Linked DNA regions of Homo sapiens: regions 2 and 3 are each linked to region 1. The links come from fine-mapping of genetic effects on gene expression. A gene starts in region 1. Each other region holds a variant in brackets. All regions are shown on one strand. Distances are from middle to middle.

Evidence for each region.
Region 2: its variant is fine-mapped to the expression of ATIC in amygdala (GTEx, PIP 0.91).
Region 3: its variant is fine-mapped to the expression of ATIC in whole blood (TOPMed, PIP 0.96).

Annotation. Positions count from the first base shown.
Region 1 is chr2:215,307,547-215,315,733 of GRCh38, reverse strand. ATIC (5-aminoimidazole-4-carboxamide ribonucleotide formyltransferase/IMP cyclohydrolase) reads right to left here and starts at 3,675. Exons shown (of 16, transcript NM_004044.7): 1 at 3,573-3,675; 2 at 3,110-3,236. The coding sequence starts at 3,591. It overlaps LOC124907975 (a long non-coding RNA gene), which reads left to right and starts at 3,762. Exons shown (of 2, transcript XR_007088075.1): 1 at 3,762-5,055. RefSeq lists silencers at 3,331-3,700, 3,711-3,790 and an enhancer at 3,321-3,971.
Region 2 is chr2:215,331,378-215,339,564 of GRCh38, reverse strand. It overlaps ATIC (5-aminoimidazole-4-carboxamide ribonucleotide formyltransferase/IMP cyclohydrolase), which reads right to left. Exons shown (of 16, transcript NM_004044.7): 8 at 7,058-7,183; 9 at 6,108-6,215; 10 at 4,561-4,646; 11 at 3,441-3,530; 12 at 658-786. Among named protein-coding and RNA genes, the nearest start is that of ATIC, 23 kb to the right of the region's middle. The variant A/T (reference allele first, on the strand shown) is at 4,737.
Region 3 is chr2:215,271,200-215,279,386 of GRCh38, reverse strand. It overlaps LINC02862 (long intergenic non-protein coding RNA 2862), which reads right to left and starts at 4,397. Exons shown (of 3, transcript NR_174956.1): 1 at 4,247-4,397; 2 at 1,704-1,779; 3 at 1,440-1,618. RefSeq lists an enhancer at 7,474-8,022. The variant T/A (reference allele first, on the strand shown) is at 3,733.

The sequences.
Region 1 (8,187 bases):
GATGATCCAGCAGCCTCAGCCTCCCAAAGTGCTGGGATTACAGGGGTGAGCCACTGCGCCCAGCCAGAACCAAGACCTTGTCCAGGCATGGTGGATCACACTTGTAATCCCAGCACTTTGGGAGGCCAAGGCAGGCAAAATTGCTTAAGCCCTAGAGTTCAAGACCAGACAGACAACATGGTGAAACCATCTCTATGAAAAATACAAAAATTAGTTGGGCATGCTGGTGTGCAGCTGTAGTCCCAGATACTCAGGAGGCTGAGGTGGAAGGATTGCCTCAGCCTGGGAGATCGAGGCTGCAATTAGCCATGATTGTGCCACTGCACTCCAGCCTGGGTGACAGAGTAAAACCCTCTAAAAAAATATATATATATAGCTTTCTCCTGCCCTCTTGCCTCTCACCCTTCATTCTTCCCTGAAGTCACAGAAATGAGAATTTCTCTTCCCCAGGGCAGTTTACAGAAACTAAAACTCTTTTTCCCCAAAGCCAGTCATAAGATTTAAACTTATGATTCTAACTTTCCACTGGCTTTCTGTCTAGGAGCTGGACGTAAAGAAATCCTCTCATCTCCTTGCCCATTAGTAGGTCAGGAGATCCTTAGGGGGTGGAGAAAGAATTTTAGAGAAGCCAAGAAGAATCTGGACAGACAGGCTTTCCTGGCTTTCTCCACCTCAGTCTACTAGCATACACCATATCCTTGCTGTCCAATCATACTTCCACCTTTCTGTCCATTCTTTGTTGAACCTAAACATAAAAATGGATGGTTTTTCCTCTGTCTTTGGGTCTTCATTCTGAAGGCTCTCATGTCATGTAAAACTTTGTTAAATAAATTTGTTATGCTTTTCTCTTATTATAACCTGTCTTCTCTTATAAAAATATTGGCCGTGACGTTTACGATGGAGAGCAAAGGATCACACCTTTCCACCCCTACAAAATCTTGGCCTCGGGTGCGGTGGCTCACACCTGTAATCCCAGCAGGCCAAGGCGGGCGATCACTTGAGGTCAGGAGTTCGAGATCAGCCTGGCCAACATGGTGAAACTCTGTCTCTACCAAAAATACAAAAAAATTAGCCAGGCGTGGTGGCGGGCGCCTGTAATCCTAGCTACTTGGGAGGCTGAGGCAGGAGAATCGTTTGAACCTGGGAGGCAGAGGTTGCAGTGAGCTGAGACAGTGCCATTGCACTCCAGCCTGAGCAACAAGAGTGAAACTCTATCTCAGAGAAAAAAAAAAAAAATCTTGGCCTCTTAACTAGCTGTGTAATCTCGAGCGAGTTACTTAACTACGTTGTGCTTAATTTCCTCACCTATAAAATGAGGATAACACTACCTAAACTAAAAAGTTGTTATAAGGACTATAAGAGTTTATATATGTAAAATACCACTGCAACTGAATAAAATACCACTGCAACTGAATGTGGCCTTTGTTGAAGAAAAAACAATTGCTCCAAGTTGTTTACATTTCATTCAGTGAACTTTACTGTGCTGGGGTCTAAATAAATCACTCATGGTGAACTTCTTATCCTTTCATAGAAGAGAAACACATTTACATTTCCAGTTTTTAAAGAAGATATGACCATAATGAAGATAAGTGAGGAGTGGGTATAGGTACAGAAACAAGACTAATCAGTTGATAAGTACCTAAAGTGGGTGACAGATATAGGACCCAAGGGATCATTATACTTTTCTACTTTTGATTGTGTCTGAAATGTTTCCATAATACAAAGTTTGGTGGGGAAAAAAAAGAGACTACAGATGAGGATTTTGCTTTACGAAGGTTCCATTACCATAGGAGGACCCAACTTGGCCCAATGGAAAGCACGCAGGTCTGGACTTTGAATTCTCATTCGGTTGCTGATGAGCAAAGAGCCAACTTGCCTGCCACGATTCTCACAGGTTTCCCATGAAAACCACAGAGACAAGACGCAAAAAGACATCCGAAAATATACAGTTATGTATTTGTTAATAAAGTAAGGCATTCTTACCATCTGAACTTGTTAAACTTAGGGAAGCTGTGTACTGCTCACATAGCTGGGAACTGCACAAAGAAAAGGTAATAACCTACCTCTACATGGATCTAGAAACCAAGAAGCAAATTTTCCACATGGCAACAAAAAGCAGACAGATATCCTTCATCTCTTTCATTCTAAAATATGTTTCAGGGGTGGTCATCTCGTTCCTCCCAACTCTCACTGCCGTTTATTAAATAGCTATCCTATAGTTTTTTTCATTTTTCTACCTTTCAGTAGACTTCCTCCCTCTCCTCCCAGAATGCCACTCCTTGACATCAGCAATGGCATCCTGGTTAATCATTTCTAAGTCCCTTCTTTCCATGGCCTAGTCAGCTAATGAAGGGCTTGTGAACGTGGGAATGAATGATTTGCACCTTCATATGGTTACCAGAGATTCTAAGGGAAGGCAGGTAAATTGGAATCTTCATGATGTCGAGTTTTATTAAATCACCAGTCAAAGTAACTGAAGTTTTCCTTGCATAACAAGTGGCCCACCTAAGTTAATCTGTTTAAGGAAGGGGCTAAGACTAGTGTCCTAAAATCAGGAACAGCACGGGTTCCAATCCTACTTTTCCCTTACTCAACTGTTTAAACTTGTGCAGAAGATGCTAAATCTGTCCAGTGTGTTGTCCAGGGTCTTTCTCTGTCACCCAGGATGGAGTGCAGTAGTGCCATCTCGGCTCACCACAACCTCCGCCTCCTAGGTTCAAGCGATTCTCCTGCCTCAGCCTTCCCAGTAGCTGGGATTACAGGCGTGTGCCACCATACCGGCTAATTTTTGTATTTTTAGTAGAGACGGGTTTCACCATGTTGGCCAGGCTGGTCTCGAACTCTTGACCGTAAGTGATCAGCCCACCTCGGCCTCCCAAAGTGCTGGGATTACATGCGTGAGCCACCTAGCCCAGCCGTCCAGGGTCTTAAAAGTTGCTAAATCTCTCTGAGCCTCACTTTTTTTCCCCATAAAGTGGGGAAGTATTACACCAACCTCACAGCGCTACTGGGAGGAGTAAATAAGGCGTTTTGCTGCTGGTGCCTGGAATACAATACTTCCTGGTTAATGTGATCACACTCCTTTCTGATGGAACTAGCTATGCCTTACCTGACTGCCAGACCAGCATCCCTGAGAGCTTTTGCAGTCCCTCCGGAAGCGACCAGATTCAAACCAAGAGCGGTCAGGTTTCTTGCAAATTCCACAAGGCCGGTTTTGTCAGAGACACTAAATAAGGCTGAAAGAGAAGACATTTTTTCTCATGATTCGCAGCACATTGCACTGTGTTCTGCAAGGCCTTGGGAGGGTCTGGGGGAGGAGATTCTCGAATCGCAAGGCCAGCACCTGGACCCTGCGTTCGCAGGCCTGGTCCGGGCCTCCCCAGGTCTTACACCCGCGAGCTGCTCTAAGGCGGGCCCCACGCAGGCTGCGGCCCGGCCGGGGAGCGGGGACGCTGGCTTTCAATCCCGCAGCGCCGCCCCTGCAGTGCCGGGTCCCGCCGGCCGCCGCCAAGGCGGGAGCGTGGGGGGCCGCAGGCGAGGACGCAGACCGCGCCGCTCCGCTAGGGCCTCACCGAGCTGGCCGGGAGCCATGGCTGCAGGCACTGGGTTCAGGGCGAGCGGGAGGCAGCAGCGGCGGCACCACGTGCGCAGGTAGGAGGGCTGCCGGGATGTGGCGGCTCAGGAAGCGAGGGGGCGGAGCTGTTTCCGGGCTTATCACGTGGCCCGCCGGCCCTGCCCGGCGCCCTGCTCTGCTCAGTTTCAGATGCAAGATCCGCGCCCCGGGGCTGAAGGGAACGGCGGGATGGGGTGGGGCTCTGCCTGGCGCGCCTGGGCGGAGTGCTTGGGCTGGAAGGGATCCTGCCTGCGATCCCGAAGTCCAGGCGTGGGAGCCAGCGATCTGCCCACGACCCCAAAGTGAGGCCACTCCACGGCCTCTGGGGCAAATGCCTGTTATTCTAGGCAGCCGGTCCCCAGAAGCTGGAAAGTACGTAAAAGTGCCAGAAGCTCCCATGCTGAAAACTAAACAAAAGGAATAGTTCATATAGCGGCAAAGCTGGAAAGTATCTGGACAGTTATCTACCATCCTCCCTTTTTGTTTGTTGTTTTTTTGTTTTTCTGGGTTTTTTTGTTTTTTTTGTTTTTTTTTTTTTTTTTTGAGATGGAGTTTCGCTTTTGTTGCCCAGGCTGGAGTGCAATGGCGCGATCTCGGCTATGTCACGTGCAACCTGCAACCTCCACATCCCGGGTTCAAGAGTTTATCCTGCCTCAGCCTCCCGAGTAGCTGGAATTATAGGCAGGCGCCACGATGCCCGGCTAATTTTTGTATTTTTAGTAGACATGGGGTTTCGCCATGTTGGCCAAGCTGGTCTCAAACTCCTGACCTCAGGTGATCCGCCTGCCTCGGCTTCCCAAAGTGCTGGGATTACAGGGGTGAGCCACCATGCCCAACTTGTTTTTTGTTTGTTTGCTTGCTTGCTTGTTTGCTTGTTTGTTTTGAGACAGGGTCTCGCTCTGTCTCCCAGACTGGAGAGCAGTGGCACCATCTCAGCTCACTGCAACCTCTGCCTCCCAGGTTCAAGAAATTCTCCTGCCTCTGCCTCCACACCCGTCTAATTTTTTGTTGTTGTTGTACTTTTTTTTTTTTTTTTTTGTATATTTAGTAGAGATGGGGTTTCACGGTGTTGGCCAGGCCGGTCTTCAACTCCTGACCTCAAATGATCTGTCCACCTCAGCCTCCCAAAGTGCTGGGATTACAGGTGTGAGCCACCGTGCCCGGCCCCATCCTCCTTTTTAATAGGCTTAAAAAATAAAACCAAGGACCAATGATTTAAGTGAGGGACTCCAGAGGCCACAGATGACAGTCAAAACGAAGTGAAATTGACATTCGTTGTTGATTTTCACGTCATAAAATTATAATTTAAATATTAATTTATAATACTATTTTATACAATTTAGTCAGTATTGTAAAAGTGCCTAAAAACTACTTAAAGATGGTGTCTTCTTGCAAACCTGTAAATATTCCTGGATGAGAGGAATGATGACAGTCAAAAGAAGGTAAGAGAAGACCTTTCTTAATTCATTAAAAACAGGGAAAGCAAAATTGAACACATTTGTTTCTTTCTAAAAATGACACCTTTGCCACAAAATAAATACATATTGTGGTCTATGAGTCTTTTTTGTGTTATTAGAATTATATTCCAAAGTAATAGCATTGTTTATCTTTTAGTCTGAGCTCACAGCTGTAAAAATGAGTCTATTTTCTCATTATCTGCATGCTATTTATTTTTGTTTTTCCTCTTCCTTTCTCTAATTCTTCCCATCTCTTTACTCCCCAAAATAAATACCTATTGACTAGAATCAATTTTTTTTTTTTTTTTTGAGACAGAGTCTCGCTCTGTCACCCACACTCTCGCTCTGTCACCCACACTGGAGTGCAGTAGCGCGATCTCGGCTCACTGCAACCTCTGCCTCCCAGGTTCAAGCGATTCTCCTGCCTCAGCCTCCCGAGTATCTGGCACTACAGGCGCGTGCCACCATGCCTGGCTAATTTTTGTATTTTTAGTAGAGATGGGGTTTCGCCATGTTGGCCACGCTGGTCTCGAACTCCTGACCTCAGGTGATCCACCTGCCTTGGCCTCCCAAAGGGCTGGGATTGCAGGCGTGAGCCACCGCGTCCAGCCTGGAATCAATTTTTTGACCTCTAAATATGTTAGCCCTTTGCTCTGAACACTTCTCACATTCCTACGAGGAATATATTAAGATTATCGCATGTCTTCAGTGTGTTTGCCAAATTTGAATTTAAAAAGGATATTTCCTTGGCCAGTCACCATCAGGTTTTTACAGGAAATCGAAAGCAAGGAAAGGAGAAAACAATGCTGACATTTATTGATAAGGGGAAATAAACAGTTGCTTCGGCATTATGCATTTGTCTGTCATGTGAATTACAAATATTTATTCGATTCAATACATTTTTATTGAGCCTTTTCTGCTTGGATGGCAGAAACTCAGTGTCAGAAGACAGATAAATATCACCTAAGCACTGTCCTCAAGGAGCTCATGATGGAATGAAAATGTAGACACATGAAGTATAACTAAAAAATATTAATAGAGGCCGGGTGCGGTGGCTCACACTTGTAATCCCAGCACTTTGGGAGGTGGAGGCGGGCGGATCACGAGGTCAGGAGATCATGACCATCCTGGCTAACACAGTGAAACCCTGTCTGTACTAAAAATACAAAAAATTAGCCGGGCGTGGTGGTGGGCGCCTGTGGTCCCAGCTACTCGGGAGGCTGAGGCAGGAGAATGGTGTGAACCCGGGAGGCGGAGCTTGCGGTGACCGAGATTGCGCCACTGCACTCCAACCTGGGCGACAGAGCGAGACTCTGTGTCTCAAAAAATTAAATAAATAGGCTGGGCGCGGTGGCTCACGCCTGTAATCCCAGCACTTTGGGAGGCCAAGGCGGGCAGATCACGAGGTCAAGAGATCGAGACCATCCTGGTTAACACAATGAAACCCCATCTCTACTAAAAATACAAAAAATTAGCCAGGTGAGGTGGCGGGCGCCTGTAGTCCCAGCTATTTGGGAGGCTGAGGCAGGAGAATGGCATGAACCCCGGGGGGCGGAGCCTGCAGTAAGCCGAGATCGGGCCACTGCACTCCAGTCTGGGCGACAGCGAGACTCCATCTCAAAAAAAAAAAAAAAAGAAGAAAAAATTAAATAAATAAATAATAATAATAGAGAAAACACGGCATTAAACTGATTTTGTAGAGCCTCTTTCATTACAGACTCTTCCATTTACAGATGTTTACTCTGGGGCCTGGTGTAGTGTCTCATGCCTGTAATCCCAGTGCTTTGGGAGGCAGAGGTAGGAGAATCACTTGAGGCCAGGAGTTTGAGACCCACCTGGGCAACATAGTGCATGCCTGCAGTCCTAACTACTTGAGAGGCTGAGGTGGGAGTTCGAGGTTACAGTGAGCTAAGGTTGCACGGCTGCATTTCGGCCTGGGCTACAGAGCAAGACCCTGTCTCTTAAATAAAATAAAATAAAAAAATAACAGGCTAGGAGTGGTGGCTCACGTCTGTAATCCCAGCACTTGGGCAAGCTGAAGCAGGTGGATCACTTGAGGTTAGGAGTTTGAGACCAGCCTGGCCAACAGGTGAAACCCCGTCTCTACTAAAAATACAAAAAGTAAGTTGGGTACAGTGGCTCACGTCTGTAATCCTAACACTTTGGGAGGTCAAGGCGGGTGGATTGCCTGAGCTCAGGAGTTCAAGACCAGCCTAGACAACATAGTGAAACACCGTCTCTACTAAAAAAATACAAAAAATTAGCCAGGCATGGTGGCGGTGCCTGTAATCCCAGCTACTCGAAAGGCTGAGGTGGGAGAATCGCTTGAACCAGGAGGTAGAGGTTGCAGTGAGCCAAGATAGTGCCACTGCACTCAAGCCTGCACTATAGAGCGAGACTCTGTCTCAAAAAATAAAAATAAAGATATTTACTCTGATTAATTCTCCCATAGTTTTAGCATCCCGACTTGATAGGACTTAATATGTTAATGACAAAAAGAGTAAATGAATTTTTTACTAGCTTTGTGATCCTGGCCAAGTCACTCCATCTTTTGGGGACCTTTGTTGCTTTACCTGTAATATGGACATAATATTTTTTCTGCAGTCCTCATCATATTTTAAGAAGCGAATTAAGTACAGGTAGTCTACTGAAAGTACAAACTGCAAAGAGACTAAGAAGAGTAAAATAGAGGTGTAATCTTCTTGGTTCCCTTGGTCTGGCTAATCAGGTATCTTTCTGGGCACCAAGGTATGTCTTCAAAGATCTAGTCACCAGCAAGCTAGTGTCTTAGAAAAGGGAGATGTTCTCATAAAGATGAGAATGCATCTTTTACCAATGGTTTATCGCAGGATTATTGTTTCAGAAAGACAGAAAGGGCGTGTATACACTATAATGATTACATTTTCATTTCTTCTTACTTCACATACCTCCAAAGAGAAGCTTGAAGACCCTAAAATCATAGTAATATACCTTAAAATATTTAATGTACATGAATTGTTTCAGTTCTTTGAAGGTGTTATAATCTGATTTTGCCCCTATGTTGTTTGTTTCTTGTGTAAATTCATCACTTTTTTTTTTTTTTTTTTTGAGACGGAGTCTCGCTCTCACTCTGTCACC
Region 2 (8,187 bases), 24 kb before region 1:
GACTGCCACATGGACTTTCAGATAAAGATATGAATATGCATTTATTTTCGAGATAGGATCTTGTTCTGTCACCCAGAGAGGAGTGCAGTGGCACAAACACGGCTCACTGCAGCCTTGATCTCCCAGACTCATGCAATCCTCTCACCTCAGCCTCTCGAGTAGCTGGACCTACAGGCGCAGCTACCACGCCAGGCTAATTTTTGTACTTTTTCTAGAGACAAGGTTTCACTACATGGTCAGGCTGGTCTTAAACTCCTGACCTCAAGAGAGCTGCCCCTTGGCCTACCAAAGTGTTGGGATTACAAATGTCAGCTACTGCACCCAGCATCTATATGTATTGATATAAAAACACATTTGTAGCCTAGCACATGGAAAAAAGCCAAGTTACAGGAGTCAGATTATGGAAGACATGATCCCATTTATACACAATTAAAGCTACTTATCTCTAGTGTGTACATATGCACAGAAGCTTCTAACATGGCCTTTGATTCATTTCTTAAACTCCAAAGCTTATGTGACAACTCAAAGATAAGCTAGCTAGCCGTGTGCATACAGACCAGTTCCAAATCCAGACCTTAATAAATGTAAAGCTCATTAAGTATTGAAAACAGACCAATGGAAGTTACTAGCAGTCAGTTCAGATACTTCCCAACTTACATCTTTATTTTTGGTAACAACATTGCTAAATAATGACTTGTCGACGACACCATTATTTCTCTTCTGGCTTAAATGAAGACCAAAGAGAGTTCGAACTTCATTTTCATCTGGTTTGTAAGATTGGTCCATCTAAAATACAAATTTTAAAAGTTAAAGTTAATCTCTCCACTTCCCTCAAATTTTTCATTTAATTTATATACAAAAGATTTCATTGTAAGTAAAGTTATATGCATGTTTCTAATTTTTTACAGTTTTCTAATTTTCTAATTTTTCTCACACAACAAATGATGTGTTAAATCATTCTGGTATGATACAATTCAACATTCTGGTATGATACAACAGCCAGGCGCTAATATTTTTCTCCAAAGTCTTTTATAGATTTTACTACCCAATAGTATTTTATAGATTTTACAACCTATATACAACATGTTAAAAAACAATGATTCCAGTGAGTGTATTTTTGGTTAAGTTACTACCTATATGGTTCTTTTGGAAGGTCAGCAGATAAAACAGATGTGCTAATTAAATAAGCAATGGCACAAAAATTAAATTCTAATTTTCCTTTCTAAAAATCTGTTACAAAATACCCAGCTAACCCAGGAATTGAAAGCTAAAAGTGAGAAAACAGGATTTGTAATCTGTGTCTTTGCTATTTGGAAGGAATTTGTATCATTTACTGCCATCTTCCTCTCCCAAATTTTGAGCCGAAAGAACATTAAGGTGTGTGGAACAATACGTGTAACACTACTCTCTCCCTGGATATTTTTTTAAACTTGACACTATTTCTTCTTTATGCTTTGGATGATCTTTGATTTAGAAAGCCCTGACATATAATTTATAAGCAAGACCCCGTAAATATTAGTTCTGTTTAATCTACATTTTCTTGAATTCTAAAATGTTCCTTTGTATTATGCACTATAAAATTTCTAAAATTGATATGCTCTCCTATTAACTGATGCTAGGAGAAACTTATCATTAGTCAGGTAGAGGGATAAGTTGTCTCATGCTTATAATCATGCGTCCAATGTGCAAACTAAGCCAAATTCTCAAATAAGTAAAATACCAATGAAGTCCTGATATTCCTTTGACACTCTCCAACTATCAGGTGTTAAAGAGATCAAGAAAATGACTCAGGTTTTGGAAAATATTTTCCATGATGCTACAAGAAAATGCTAATGGTTGTTAAGTACATAACACTCTTAACAACAACAACAAAAAAAAAACTTGATTAAGAAACTGGGGGCCAGGCGCGGTGGCTCACGCCTGTAATCCCAACACTTTGGGAGGCCGAGGCGGGCAGATCCCTTGAGGTCAGGAGTTTGAGACCAGCCTGGCCAACATGGTGAAACCCTGTCTCTACTAAAAATACAAAACTCAGCCAGGCCTGGTAGTACATGCCTGTAGTCCCAGGTACTTGGGAGGGTGAGGCAGGAAAATCGCTTGAACTCAGGAGGCAGAGGTTGCAGTGAGCCAAGATCACACCACTGCACTCTAGCCTGGGCAACAGACTGTCAAGTGGCTAAAAAAAAATAAGTATTAACTTTAATGTGGTATTCTCTTCTTTCCTTAAATAGCTGACATGGAATCTATGGTGAACTATAAAATTATTGGTATCTTACAATCAAAAGAATATACTTAATAACTTTCCTTGTAAGGAATTAGGATTCCACAGAGTTCTGATATCAATACTATGAAAAGTAGCATTAGGAATTTTTACTTTAAATTGAAATAACTCTTTGCTTTATCAATGCATAATCTTAGACCATGAGCTACTTTTCCCAATACAGAAGAGCTCATAAAAATCAGTTAAAAAAAAAAAAAAAGCCAACAACAACTTAGTAGAAAAATCATCAAAGAATATGGAAAGACAGTTCATAGAAAGGAATAAAAACATTCAAACATGAAAAGATGCTCATACCACACACAATGTTAAAACTACATTGAGATGCCATTTTCTAACTGCAGAGACTTTTTAAAAGTATAAAACCACAATGCTGACAAAAGTGTTGGGAAACAGGCATCCTTATATATTTCAGTTAGGACAATGAATTTGCCTACAACATCTAAAAGGGGCAGTATCAATTAAGATTACCAATATACATAGAGCTTGTTATTAAGCCTTAATTTCACTCTCAGGACTTTTCTAGGTTATTCACTGCAGGGGTATTTGTAGTAGCTAAAGATTGGTGACTGTCTAGGTAAGTTAAAATACACAGATACAGGACAAACTTCCAAGAAGGTGAAGCAGGGTGCACTTGTGTCAATAGGAAAATAGAAAAAGAAATGCACATGCAAATATTTGCTGAATACATAGACTATTTCAGGAAAGATAAGCAAGAAATTTAAAATAGTTATCTTTTCAAAAGGTAACAGAAGGATGGAGAGACTTTCCATTAAATATTGTTACTATTATTAGTATTTTAGAGACATGGTCTTACTACACTGCCAAGGCTGGAGTGCAGTCGTTATTCACAGGCATCATAGTACCACAATACAGCCTCCAATTCTTGGCCTCAAGCCATCCTCCCACATCAGCCTCTCAAGTGGCTGAAATTATAGGCATGAGCCATCACAACCAGCAAAAAGTTAAAATTGAGGGTAAGAAAGCTACTCTCATCTCAAAACCCCAAGTTAATAGTATTTTTTTAAATGCAGGATTGGGGAAAATAAACTATAATAAGGATAAACTAGAAGGGTATGAGTATAAAGGAAAGAGTAAACAAGGGAGAAAGAGACACAGAATAAAAGAGCAAATTACCGCTTCAAACATGAATTGCACTCACCTGAAGGACACAATAGTTTCCATTTTTCTTTTTGGAAAGTATTGTCAAGGCTTCTTCTTCATATCCTGGGGCAATTATACCATCAGATACCTGCAAAAATATTAAATTTTAATTTCTATTTTTAAAAATCAGAGAACACCTCTTAAAAAAATCTAGCAGCAATTATCAGTCTTAAATAATGTGGCAGCATATTCTGGTTTCTGCCTCCAACAAACAATGCTAACGCTATACTTGAAAAGAGAAATCTATTAGAATACAGCTTTCTGTATAGCAGATCCTAACTTTCTGTCCTCTCCAAGTTTTTGTTCGTTTCAGTTTAAACTAAGAAAATATGACTGATTTGCTCTTAACACATGTACCTCAGGAGGAAATATTTCTTCAGGGAGTGTTTTGAATGAGCAAGAGCACATTCTAGTCCTGACTCTCCTAGTACATGGTTAAATGACCTCTTCCGGCAAGGCGTTTTCCTTAACAGCAAGACCAGATTAAATCAGAGATTTGACATGACGAAAGATACAAATGTCACAGCCCTCCTGTAACCTGTAACCCAGGGATGGCAGTGGCCATGGAAAGAATCCTAAAGCAACAAAATAGTGCCAAGCCACATGCTCCTTCAGCCTTCACCTCTGCTTATTTTTTTCCCCTTTCTGAGCTATTTAATCTTTTTCTCTTTTCTTCCTGTCTTCCTACTACCAACAGTACCCCCACCTGTCTGGAATACCTGTTTGGTATTCAACTGATGGGGTAAGTTTATTAATGTAGTTTCTGTTTTTTACCCACTATGCAGTAAGATGGATTATATCGCATCACCACCTAAAATTACAACTTCTGCTCTTCAGAAACAGTAACTTTGGCATGAAGACAACAAAGAATTTAAAATAAATATATAAGTAAAAAACATCATAACAGCCAAATATCCATCTGAAACAATAATTCACTACATTTCAAAATTAACAATTTAAGATTAATGTTCTATTTAAAATATGAACATTAAATGATAAACTTAGCTAATTAAAAGATATTATAAATATAAATATTATAGGTTATGGTTTCAATTAACATTATGAACAAATAAAGCTTTATTCAACACACAGATTAAGATACATGAATGTCCACTAACTTCTCTGGAAATAATTTTTGCAGTTGGTACATCACAAACATCGGACAATGCAACAAAATCACCAAATGAAGACATCCTATCAGCCCCTGTAAATAAAATTAAAATGAGGTATTTATCACAAAGTATCCTGATACAGAAAAAGTAATAAAATTCTCCACTGTCATATAAAATTCATT[A/T]CTCTAAAGCTAATCTTACTGTTTACATAAGATTTTAACAGATCAATAAGTCATTTAACTGAAGTAACCAGTAAGAAAGTATTCTTTAATTTTACCCTCTAGAGTGACACTCAGAAAACTTTTTCTGTGAAGGACCAATTTATATATACTATATTCACAAAAACAGGGTGGCAGGCTGGATTCAGCTGAAGTTGCTGACCACTGCTGTAGATGATAAACTATGGTAATAGTTTCTCAAGAACTTTCAGAAATACTAAAGGGATATTCATGGGTTATTAAATTCAACAAGTAAATGTCTCTGATAAAACATGACTCTAACCAAATGTAGTAAAGTTAGAAGAGCCATAAATCACGCCTGTAATCCCAGCCCTCTGGGAGGCTGAGGCAGGTGAATCACTTGAGGTCAGGAGCTCAAGACCAGCCTGGCCAACATGGTGAAACCATGTCTCTACTAAAAATACAAAAAAATTAGCCAGGTGTGGTGGCACGCACCTGTAATCCCAGCTACTCAGGACGCTGAGGCAGGAGAATCGCTTGAACCCAGGAGGTGGAGGTTGCAGTGAGCTGAGATGGCGCCACTGCACTCCAGCCTGGGCAACAGAGCAAGAAGCTGTCTCAAAAAAAAAAAAAAAAAAAAAAGAATAGCTTTTTGTAATTTCAATTTTGGTCACATATTAAACAATAACAAATGCATTCAATAGCCTAAATTAGCAAAATTACATTGACCAAATTCCAATTGTGTTTCCATTTATTACACTAAAATACTAACAAATACTTTTTTTTTTTTGAGACGGAGTATCGCTCTGTCACCCAGGCTGGAGTGCACTGGCGCTATCTTGGCTCACTGCAAGTTCCACCTGCCGGGTTCACACCATTCTCCTGCCTCAGCCTCCTGAGTACCTGGGACTACAGGTACCCCCCACCACGCCCAGCTAATTTTTTGTATTTTTAGTAGAGACGGGGTTTCACCGTGTTAGCCAGGATGGTCTCGATCTCCTGACCTCGTGATCTGCCCGCCTCAGCCTCCCAAAGTCCTGGTACTACAGGCGTGAGACATTGCGCCCGGCCTAAAATACTAACATACACTTTTATAAAGAAATGTATTTTGAGGTACTCACAGAATCAATCTCAAATATTAATAAAACAAATTAAATAGGAAATCCTATAATGAAACAAAGGGTATTTTACTTTAATCAAACTATATTATATAGAATAACTGTATATTTACATAGAGATAGAAGTCCTTAATTTCATCTATATATTATACAGAATATCTATATATTTTTTCTTTATTCTATCCTCTTTATTCTATTTAGGATAAAATATTGCTTTTTCTTTCTCCCCCAAATCAAAAAGCCCTATGAGTCTGACCTCTTGCTCTTGCATATGCCGCTGAGATGGGTGTGAGGGTTTTATAGAGATCATAAACCATGCAGACTTTGGCCTCATCTTCACTGAGTGGAATTCCAACAGCAGCACCTGGTTAGAAAATAGTAAAATCATAAACAAAGAAAGCTAAAGTTACTACCTGTCAACTCCTAAATCAAGACAGTTTTCTTAACACCCAGTCTACGCAGCACATTTTCTAGTGCCTGTGCTAAATTAAACAGAAATCTATTTAGCCAGATAATTATACACTAAAAATATGGTTGTGGGAGCAGTGTGAGGGAAATCTCCTCTCTGCCCTCCAAAACCACAGAGCCACTGAAGCCTGACAGTACCCAGCGTGTAGGTGAAGCTCGTTTACTTCATTACTGACTCACTCTTTCTCTCTGTTCTGCTTGATATCACTTTGATATCACACATCATTTATTTCTTCCCCACTCACATCACTTTAACACCCAATAAACACCTGAGAACAAATCATGTGCTGGAGGACTGTCAGCAAGATGTGGTGTACAGACAACTCAATTGCGGAGTTCATGATTTAAACACAGAAGCAAAGTATCTCATACAACGACTATAAGAAGTTTCAGATAAAGAGTCCAAAGAAGAACTTCTTTATGTTTACTCCATTACATTTTCAAAGATGTGGCACAAGACTTAGTCTATTGCATTAGGACATTTCACTTTTATTTTCTAAACTTTTATGGTTCCACCCCACAAACAAATTCCTGCCTCATTTTCCTGACAATATTACACAATTCTGTGTGTGTGTGTGTATCAGATTTTATATTATTACATTGATACTGTTATCAACAGATGACTTTCAGATTTCATAGCATGTCTATATTCACATTAGAACTTGTTAATATTCAAAAAAATTTAAGAAGAAATGCCTTTCGAACAATTCTGGAGCTTTCCAGAGCACAGAGCTTTACCTGCTGGGCTGACATGTTTGAAAGAGGCAGCGGCTGGAATACCTAAAGCCTCCTTGAGTTCCTTCACCAGCTGCCAGGCGTTCAAAGCATCGCACAAGTTTATAAATCCAGGGGCTCCATTTAGAACTAAATGTAAAAATATACATGCACATTACTAAGCAGGATCAGTAAGGTCAGATGTATGCACACTTCTCAAAAAAATAACATGACTAAACAAATGTTTTAAGTATAATTAAGAGCCAAACAGATACACACAAACATAAAATCTTGATGATAAAGAACAAAGCAACTGAGCCTGAGCCCATCTTTAAAAAAAATGCACATGTACATGAACACACACACACACACACACACACACACACACACACACACACACGACTGGAGGACCAGAACCAGCCAGTCTAGAAATAAATCCACAATAAGAGATTTAGGGATGGGAGAAACTATGACAAGACTAGTGATCAGTCAGGAATTCATGTAAATACAGAACTAAGATTAAACAATTGAGGTAATCACAGAGACAGTACAAAATTAAAGTTATAAACCCTATCGATGTAAGAAATTATATTACAAGCTAAAGCAACAGCTGTGGGTGGAAGAAGAGAAGAAATAATGTGTTTTTTCTTTCTTCTTTGATGGCAAACTCAACAGACTCTGCCTAAAGCAGAACTGTAGTTAAAAGGAGACTGCAACTTCAGAGTTTTCCATTACCTAGTTTCTCAACACTGGCAGATTTTTTTAGGAGCTAGTATCTCTTGTGAATAAACATAAGAAGTTCAGCACACAGAAAGAAATGGTGGGCCAGCACTAATTAAAAACAAAAATGAGCCGGGTACAATGGCTCACCCCCATGACCCCAGCACTTTGGGAGGCCGAGGTGGGTGGATCACAAGGTCAGGAGTTCGAGATCAGCCTGGTCAACATGGTGAAACCCCCGTCTCTACTAAAAACACAAAAATTAGCTGGGTGTGGTGGCGGGCGCATGTAATCCCAGCTACTAGGGAGGCTGAGGCAGGAGAATCGCTTGAACCTGGAAGGTGGAGGTTGTAGTGAGCCGAAACCGCGCCACTGCACTCCAGCCTGGCCAACAAGAGCGAGACTCCGTCTCAAAAAAAAAAAAAAAAAACCCA
Region 3 (8,187 bases), 36 kb after region 1:
TCCCAAAGTGCTGGGATTACAGGCGTTAGCCTCCCACGCTGGCCTCATCTTTCAATTTTTAACACATCTGAGGAATATGAATAATTCCAAGTGAAGTAGACATTCATAAAATGCTTTTGTTCTTCCATCATTTAAATCCAAACTTTTCCATGCTGTCTTATTATGTTGGTGCAAAAGTAATTGCGGTTTGTGCCATAACTTTCAAGGTCAAAAACCGCAATTACTTTTGCAGCAACCTAATAGTTTGCTTACAGGAATCTAACAGTCGTTATTCTCTTGGTCAAATTGAAAGCTGAAAAATAATCTTTAAAATATAGATCTCTATGTTTATTTCAAGTCTTCTTGGCATTTTCTAAATTAAATAATTTCATAAAACTAGACCAAAGCTGTATGAGCTAAGATATTTATCACAGTATCAAAATAATTAACATTTACTGAGAAAAGTCAGACACTGTGATGCACTGTTTTATATGCATAATCTTTATTTACTATCACAACCACCCTATGAAGTAGCTTGTATAATAATCCCAATTTTTACAGATGAGAAAATTGCACTTTAGAGAGAGTACGTAACTTGACTAAAGTCACATAGCTAATAAGTGGCAGAGCCAGCCAGGACTTTTTTTCTTTTGTTTGTTTGTTTGAGACAGGGTCTTGCTCTGTGGCCCAGACTGGAGTGCAGTGGCACAATCTCTGCTCACTGCAACCTCTGCCTCCTAGGTTCAAGCGATTCTCCTGCCTCAGCCTCCAGAGTAACTGGGATTACAGACACATGCCACCATGCCCAGCTAATTTTTTTTTTTTTTTTTTTTTTTTTAGTAGAGACAGGATTTCACCATGTTGGTCAGGCTGGTTTCAAACCCCGACCTCAAGTGACCCACCTGCCTCGGCCTCCCAAAGTACTGGGATTACAGGCATGAGCCACCACCGCGCCTGGCCCAGGACTTTATGTATGTGTGTGTGTATATATATATATATATATATATATTTTTTTTTTTTTTTTTTTTTTTTAAGGCAAAGACTCGTTCTGTCTCCCAGGCTGGAGTGCAGTGGTGCAATCTTGCCTCACTGCAACCTCCACCTCCTGGGTTCAAGCAATTATCATACCTCAGCCTCCCAAGTAGCTAGGACTACAGGCATGCACTACCACACCCAGAATTTTTATATTTTTAGCAGAGACAGGGTTTCACCCTGTTGACCAGGCTTGTCGGAAACTCCTGACCTCAAGTGATCCACCCACCTCGGCCTCCCAAAGTGTTGAGATTATGGGCGTGAGTCACTGCACCCACCACCAGCCAGGACTTTAGAGTCAACAAGTCAAGTCTTTCTGACTCTAAAAGCTCTTCTTAACCTCTAGAAAAAGTAAATATTCAGCAATAGGAAACTCCTCACATCTATTATAACTTCAATATAACAGAATATTATGCAGCCATTGCAAATTATGTTCTTGGTTAATTTTTATTGACTAGAAAATGCTTATATTTTAATAGCAAACAAAAGAATAAGCAAGGTGCTGTGGCTCATGCCTGTAATCCCAGCACTTTGGGAGGCCAAGGTGACAGATAACTTGAGTCCAGATGTTCAAGACCAGCCTGGGCAACATGGTGAAGCTCCGTCTCTACAAAAAATAAAAAAAATTAGCTGGGCGTAGTGGTACATGCCTGAAGTCCCAGCTATTCCAGAGGGTGAGGTGGGAGGATCACCTGAGTCCAGGAGATGGAGGCTGCAGTGAGCCATGATCATGCCAGTGAACTCCAGCCTGGGTGACAGAGCAAGACCCTGTCTCAAAAGCAAACAAACAAAAAAATAAGATTCACACTAATGCATACATTATTATCTCAGCTATGTAGAAATATAAACATTTATGAGCTGGGTGCGGTGGCTTATGCCTGTAATCCCAGCACTTTGGGAGGCCAAGGCAGGTGGATCACGAGGTCAGGAGATCGAGACCATCCTGGCTAACATGGTGAAAACCCATCTCTACTAAAAATACAAAAAATTAGCCAGGCGTGGTGGCAGGCACCTGTAGTCCCAGCTACTCGGGAGGCTGAGGCAGGAGAATGGTGTGAACCCAGGAGGCGGAGCTTGCAGTGAGCTGAGATTGCACCACTGCACTCCAGCCTGGGCAACACAGTGAGACTCCGTCTCAAAAAAAAATAAAAAAAGAAAAGAAATATAACCATATATGAATACCCATAGAAAAAATGGGAAATAGTATATACAAATATTAGGATTGCTTTATTTAAATGTGGTATGATTATGAATGATTTTGCTTTCTTATTACATATTTCTGTAATGAACATGTATTACTTTTATAATCAGGGAAAAGATAACAGAAATTTTTAATACTTATAATATGAGGGAGGAAATATAAAGACTTGGTTTTTATGATTAGAGAAATAAGTCCATTTAATAACTGCTGTATCCATGAAGTGCAAAACCTTCAATATGCGATCTGTTTCTGACATGATGGCTATCAGATACTCAGATACATACAAAGTAATATTCTCTTGCTTGCTGAATTCTCTTATTCTTTCTGCCTTATGTTGGAGATAAAGTAGAAAGTGTGTGTTTCTCATTGGGAAGTTGGCACTTGAATGAGACTGCCGCTTTTCTCAGCTTAAAAAAGATAAAAGGAGTTATCAAGTAATGTTTTCTTTCACCTAAGGATGTTGGTCCCACTCCAACAATTGGAATTGATTGAACTCCTGTGCTTGCAAATTTAAAAGCCTTTTACACAGGGGATCTACTCACTCAGAATTTTACAAATCAGTGGATGAACTCAAAACAAAAACCCATTACAGGGCACCTTAATGTTTATCTGTTTGGCAAGATAAACACTTGTAAACAAGCACTTTCAACTGTGAGCTTCGATAATAACACTATGAGATCTGTACTGGATGTTAAAAATTTACATACAACTGTAAAGATAGGACAAACCTAAAGAAGAAAATTGCTTTTTTAAAATTAAGTTTTCTGATCCATATTCTTAATTACATTGTATTTCATTTATCTAGACCACAGCCACTTCTCTTGACTTTTTCCTTGATAGCATTTTTATTATTGCCTATGGAACGTAACATTGCATGACACAAGTATGCCATTGGTATTTGATTAAATAGTACTGCTTCCTGAAAGCCTGGAAACCTTCAATCAGGCAAAAGAAATGATATTAAATAGCCTTATGTCTGATGAACATAATAACTGCTAATTAATTTGTTATTTAGCCCTGAAATTGTCAAACCTAAATGTGCTTTTTTTTTTTTTTTGAGACAGGGTCTTGCTCTGTCACCCATGCTGGAGTGCAGTAGCTCAATCATAGCTTACTGCGGCTTCAAACTTCCAGTATTAAGCAATCCTCCCACTTCAACCTTCTGAGTAGCTGGGACTACGAGTGTATACCACCATGCCCAGTTAAATATGTATATATATGTATATGTGTGTGCGTGTGTGTGTGTGTGTGTGTGTGTGTGTGTATACATATTTTGACAGGGGACAGAGTCTCTGTCTCCCAAGCTGGAATGCATTGGTGCGATCTTGGCTCACTGGAACTGCCATCTCCTGGGTTGGAGCAATTCTCCCGCCTCAGCCTCCTGAGTAGCTGGGATTACAGGTGTGTGTCACCATGCTCGGTTAATTTTTTGTATTTTTGATGGATGATGGGATTTCACCATGTTGGCCAGGCTGGTCTCGAACTCCTGACCTCAAATGATCCACCCGCCTCAGCCTCCC[T/A]AAGTACTGGGATTACAGACGTGAGCCACCACTCCCGGCCCAAATCTAAATCTTGACATTAAATTTAGACTTCAGAGTTTCATTGAGATTAATCAAACTTGAAATAAACTTTAAGAAAGATCATATCCAGGTAAAATCAGTTCTTTTGTCTAAAAAAATTAGTTATTACATTTCAACCAACAGACCAAAGGGCCTTAACCTCTAGATCAGTGCTTGACAAATTACTGATGGATCAGTCCCCAACAAAACACACACAATTTGTTACAGACCAATACTTTGATAAAACTGAAGAAGCAAAACAATGGAAAATGAAAAAGTCATGCAAAATAGAAACACATTTATAAATGATTAGTTTCAACAGATACACAACTATTGTCAAACTTTTCCAAATGTTTTAAATCCTTACTCTCATTTTCTGTGCTTTACTTGCCATGAACCAATAACAAACAATTCTGAGAGCCATGCAGATCACGGACCACATTTTGAGTAGCGCTGCTGTCGGCTCCCTGCTCACCTTAAAGTCCCATATGTTGCTGTTTGTCTTTGGCTGAGAATCTGATTAGGTAATGGAATGAGGCTGACTTCCTTATCTTCACCTGCAACTCCCCTTGAGTAGGTTTGCAGATTGTAATTATACCTGTGTGGTATCAAGATCTTTCACCTGTAGGGTCCTGATGCAACTGAGGTATTTATAAACACCGAGGCAAGTTCCCAGGGTTCAGCTGCCCGTGGTTTCAGGTGATGACTCCGCTGGGCAAATGTCAAGGACCTCCGTGAACAGCATAACCAGCTGAACCAGAGGGAAATTTCCCCAAATGTTTTACTCATATATAGGTGAAATAGCTAGTAGTTCCCGCACTGTGTATGATCATCAGAATCATAACAATGCAGTTTTAAAAATATGTTAGAACCAACTATAACTGCTGACTCTATTATTGTTCAAACTATTTCTAAGCGTTTTCTCCCCTCCTCATTGGTTGATTCCAACACCACAGGGAATGGAGGCTGCCCACAGCCAGAGTCTTTAGGGAAAGGATAGAGTCAGACTGCTCGGTCTTTCCTATCAGCAGAAGGCCACACTGGCTGCTGTGCTGTTCTGGGCATAGTCAGCATGATGATTGCTTTGAGAGATTTAGAATTGGCATTTCTTTAGCTGTTGCGCCTTCTTTCACACCAGCTGAACAACAGTTCTTAAAATGTGGCCCAGAGACTCCTACAACCATTTCAGGAGGTCTGCAAGGTAAAAGATCTTTTCATAGTAGTACTAATGTTATTTGCTTTTTTCACTCCCATTCTTTCATGAATGGGGTTTACAGTGGCTCCATAACGTGTAATGATATCATTGTTCCGATGCTTAATGGAATGTGTGCTTCTGTGCTCTTCGTGTATTCTTGTAATACCAATCTTAATTTCAAATATGATAAATATTGACAGATAGAGCCTGCGTAAACTACAGCCGTTCGGAGTCTGTAATATTTTTTAAGAGTATAAAGGGGTTTCGAGACCAAAAAGTTTGAAAATCACTGCTGTAGAAGAATAAATTTAGTTAATTGTGTCTACAATGAAATGTAGAGGCAATTTGGCCTAGGAGATTTTTCTTTTTATAGCGTCCAAAATGCTATAGTAGTGGGGCCATGCCGTGGCAAGGAAACATTCTCCTCTGGAGTGCCCAGAGGAAACACAGCCTTGCTCAAGACGCTGAAGGACTTCTGACCTTCAGAAATGTAATAAATCTGTGTTGTTTTAAGCCTTGAAGCTTTTGGTAATTTGTTACAGCCACAATAGGAGCTGAATATAGGCCAGGTGCGGTGGCTCACACCTGTAATCCCAGCACTTTGGGAGACCGAGGCAGGCAGATCACCTGAGGTCACGAGTTCGAGACCAGCCCGGCCAACATGGTAAAACCCTGTTTCTACTAAGTATAAAATTAAAAAAAAGCCAGGAGTGGTGGCGGACACCTGTAATCCCAGCTACTTGGGGGGCTGAGGCAGGAGAATCCCTTGAACCAGGCAGGCAGAGGTTGCAATGAGCCAAGACCATGCCATTGCACTCCAGCCTGGGCAACAGAGTGAGACTCCACCTCAAAAAAAAAAAAAAAATAGGATACAAATACAGATCTGTTTCAGAGAAAACAAAGACTTGTTGAGCACCTGCTAGGCACCAGGCCATGAGCAAAATTACATAGTCAGGGCTTACAAACACTAGGATTCAAATTCAGGTTCACCTGCATTCAGAGACCAAATCCTTTCCATGAATCTTTTTTTTTCTTTTTTTTTTTTGTCCCCATTCCAAAAGAAAAAATGTTCTATGGTAAAAGTGGTGCTATAAACTTTTGATTTTCTCTAAGGACAATTGTAGAATTTCAGTGCATGATCCATATTGTCAGAGATCATGAATATTGCTTAGGTCCTGATGGCACCTTGATCGTATGCCCTTACTTGACTACAATCTAGTCGATATGGATAGCACTGTGGGTAACTTTACAGGCACTCAGTGTGTTCCCCTGAGCTAAAGAAAGGAGGTATTTCCCCCACGTTACTCCCTGTATTCCTAACTATGAATCAACTCTCAGGTTAACTGCAGCATACTCATTTACTTCTGAAAATGAAACATGAGAATTGTTAAATGTCAAGCTCTGCCTCATGAGAAGGAAATTCTAAAGTGAATTCTTATTCAATATGGGTAAGAGAAGATTAATTGCTTTTTAAAAATTTGGTGATGAAACATGCTGGTTTTCTAGTCTAAAGGAGAGTATTTACTTATATCAATATTCAACACCAGTTGATTTGTAGGAATATTTTTAAGGCAAGATTGGTTTGAAAGCAATTAGGATGGATAGAATTTGCTTTGGAAGGTAGCTTAAATGTAAGCAAGGCATCAAAATAGCTTAAATATCCAAATATTCAGAGATGTAATTCAGAGGTTTCAGGAACATCATGTATTTGGAAAAGCCAAGTTGATAGTTCCACGCCATGAGATGGTGATTCATACAAGATGTCTCCATCTTCATTTTGCCTATTATCTTTCCCCCAGTTCTACACTGTTCCAAGGGTATATGCCAGTCATTTCTGAGTTGATATTAGGCCGGGACTCAAGATCACCAAATCCCTAAAAAACCACTTACAGTCACAACCATGTCTACTAGATTCCCCATAAGAGACACAATCCATGCCTTGATGGTGAGGCCTGGCCTGTGCACACTGTTTATTACTGTTTGGGTTTGGTGCCAAAATCCTTTTTGGAATTCCTAGACCTGGCGAATTGTGCTGGACTACATAGGGCTGAAAACATTCCTATGTGTCTTTTGTCAGAGGCCTAAATGAAGTTCCTCCAGATCTCACTCTAGTGGCAAAAAAAAAAAAAAAAAAAAAAGAGAGAGAGAGAAATCCAAAGAAAAATAGAATATAGGTGGGATGGTTCCCTACGCCCAAAACCTAGACACTCTACCCCAGGCCAGGCCTTCCTGTGGCAATAGGAAGTGGGGTGTGGGTGGTTGGTGAGAAAAGGCCGTTGGAGGAGTTCATTACTAGGTGGAAAGCAGGCCTGTCTTAATTGCTAGAGCGGCAGCTGGCGGAGACATCATTTTAATAAGACAAGTCCAAAATGACAGAGTCTCTAAAATCCCTAATCCAACTGGAGAGCATAGTTAGAGAATAAGCTTCTGCCTCCTTTTCTTACCATGACATTAAAAGTTCCACGCTCTGCCTCAACACTGTGGCCCAATAAAGATCCTCAGAAATTAATGTTGCTTCTCCTTAGGTGTCAAGGACAGGGAGGACTGGAGCTTTGATCTGACCCCATAGGCCAGCAGTGTATATTACCCCACAGTTAGCTAATGTTATGGTCATAATTTACCTCCTCAGGCCTGCCTGGGATCTGTCAGTTTTATCAATGGGGAGGTGAAACAGAAGCTGATCCTCTTCCCTACCAGCCTTCCAGATTGCCTGGGCTGCTTCATTCCTCCAGCATTCCATTTAAATCAAGGCAGGCACAAGACCTGCTGCTTTGCATTGTGATGGGATGCACCTGACAGGTAGCATCTGAGCACTCTGGGATGCTATGCAGCAGTGCAGCTACAAGCATGAATCAATTAAGTGGCGATTAGGTTCAGACTCTCAAGCAATGACATAGTCGGCTTCACACTGACTTTGCTATACATAAAATCCCCAGAAAGAATAATACCTTATCCAAACTTTCATTATATCTGGTAGTAGAATGAATATGGATCGATAATAAATTTTGTTCCAATATAACATTAGTTTCAGAAGAATTTTCTCCTTCTTTCCCTATCAAGAAATCAAATTATGGCCATAAAAATAAAGGCTTATCTACTTGAGGACTCTGTGAAGAGAACAATGGTTTGCTTTTTAATATTAACATTTTAGCTTGTATTTGAAAATAAGCTTGGGTGATTTTATACAAGAGAGAATTAAATATGTTTCTCAGAACATGAAC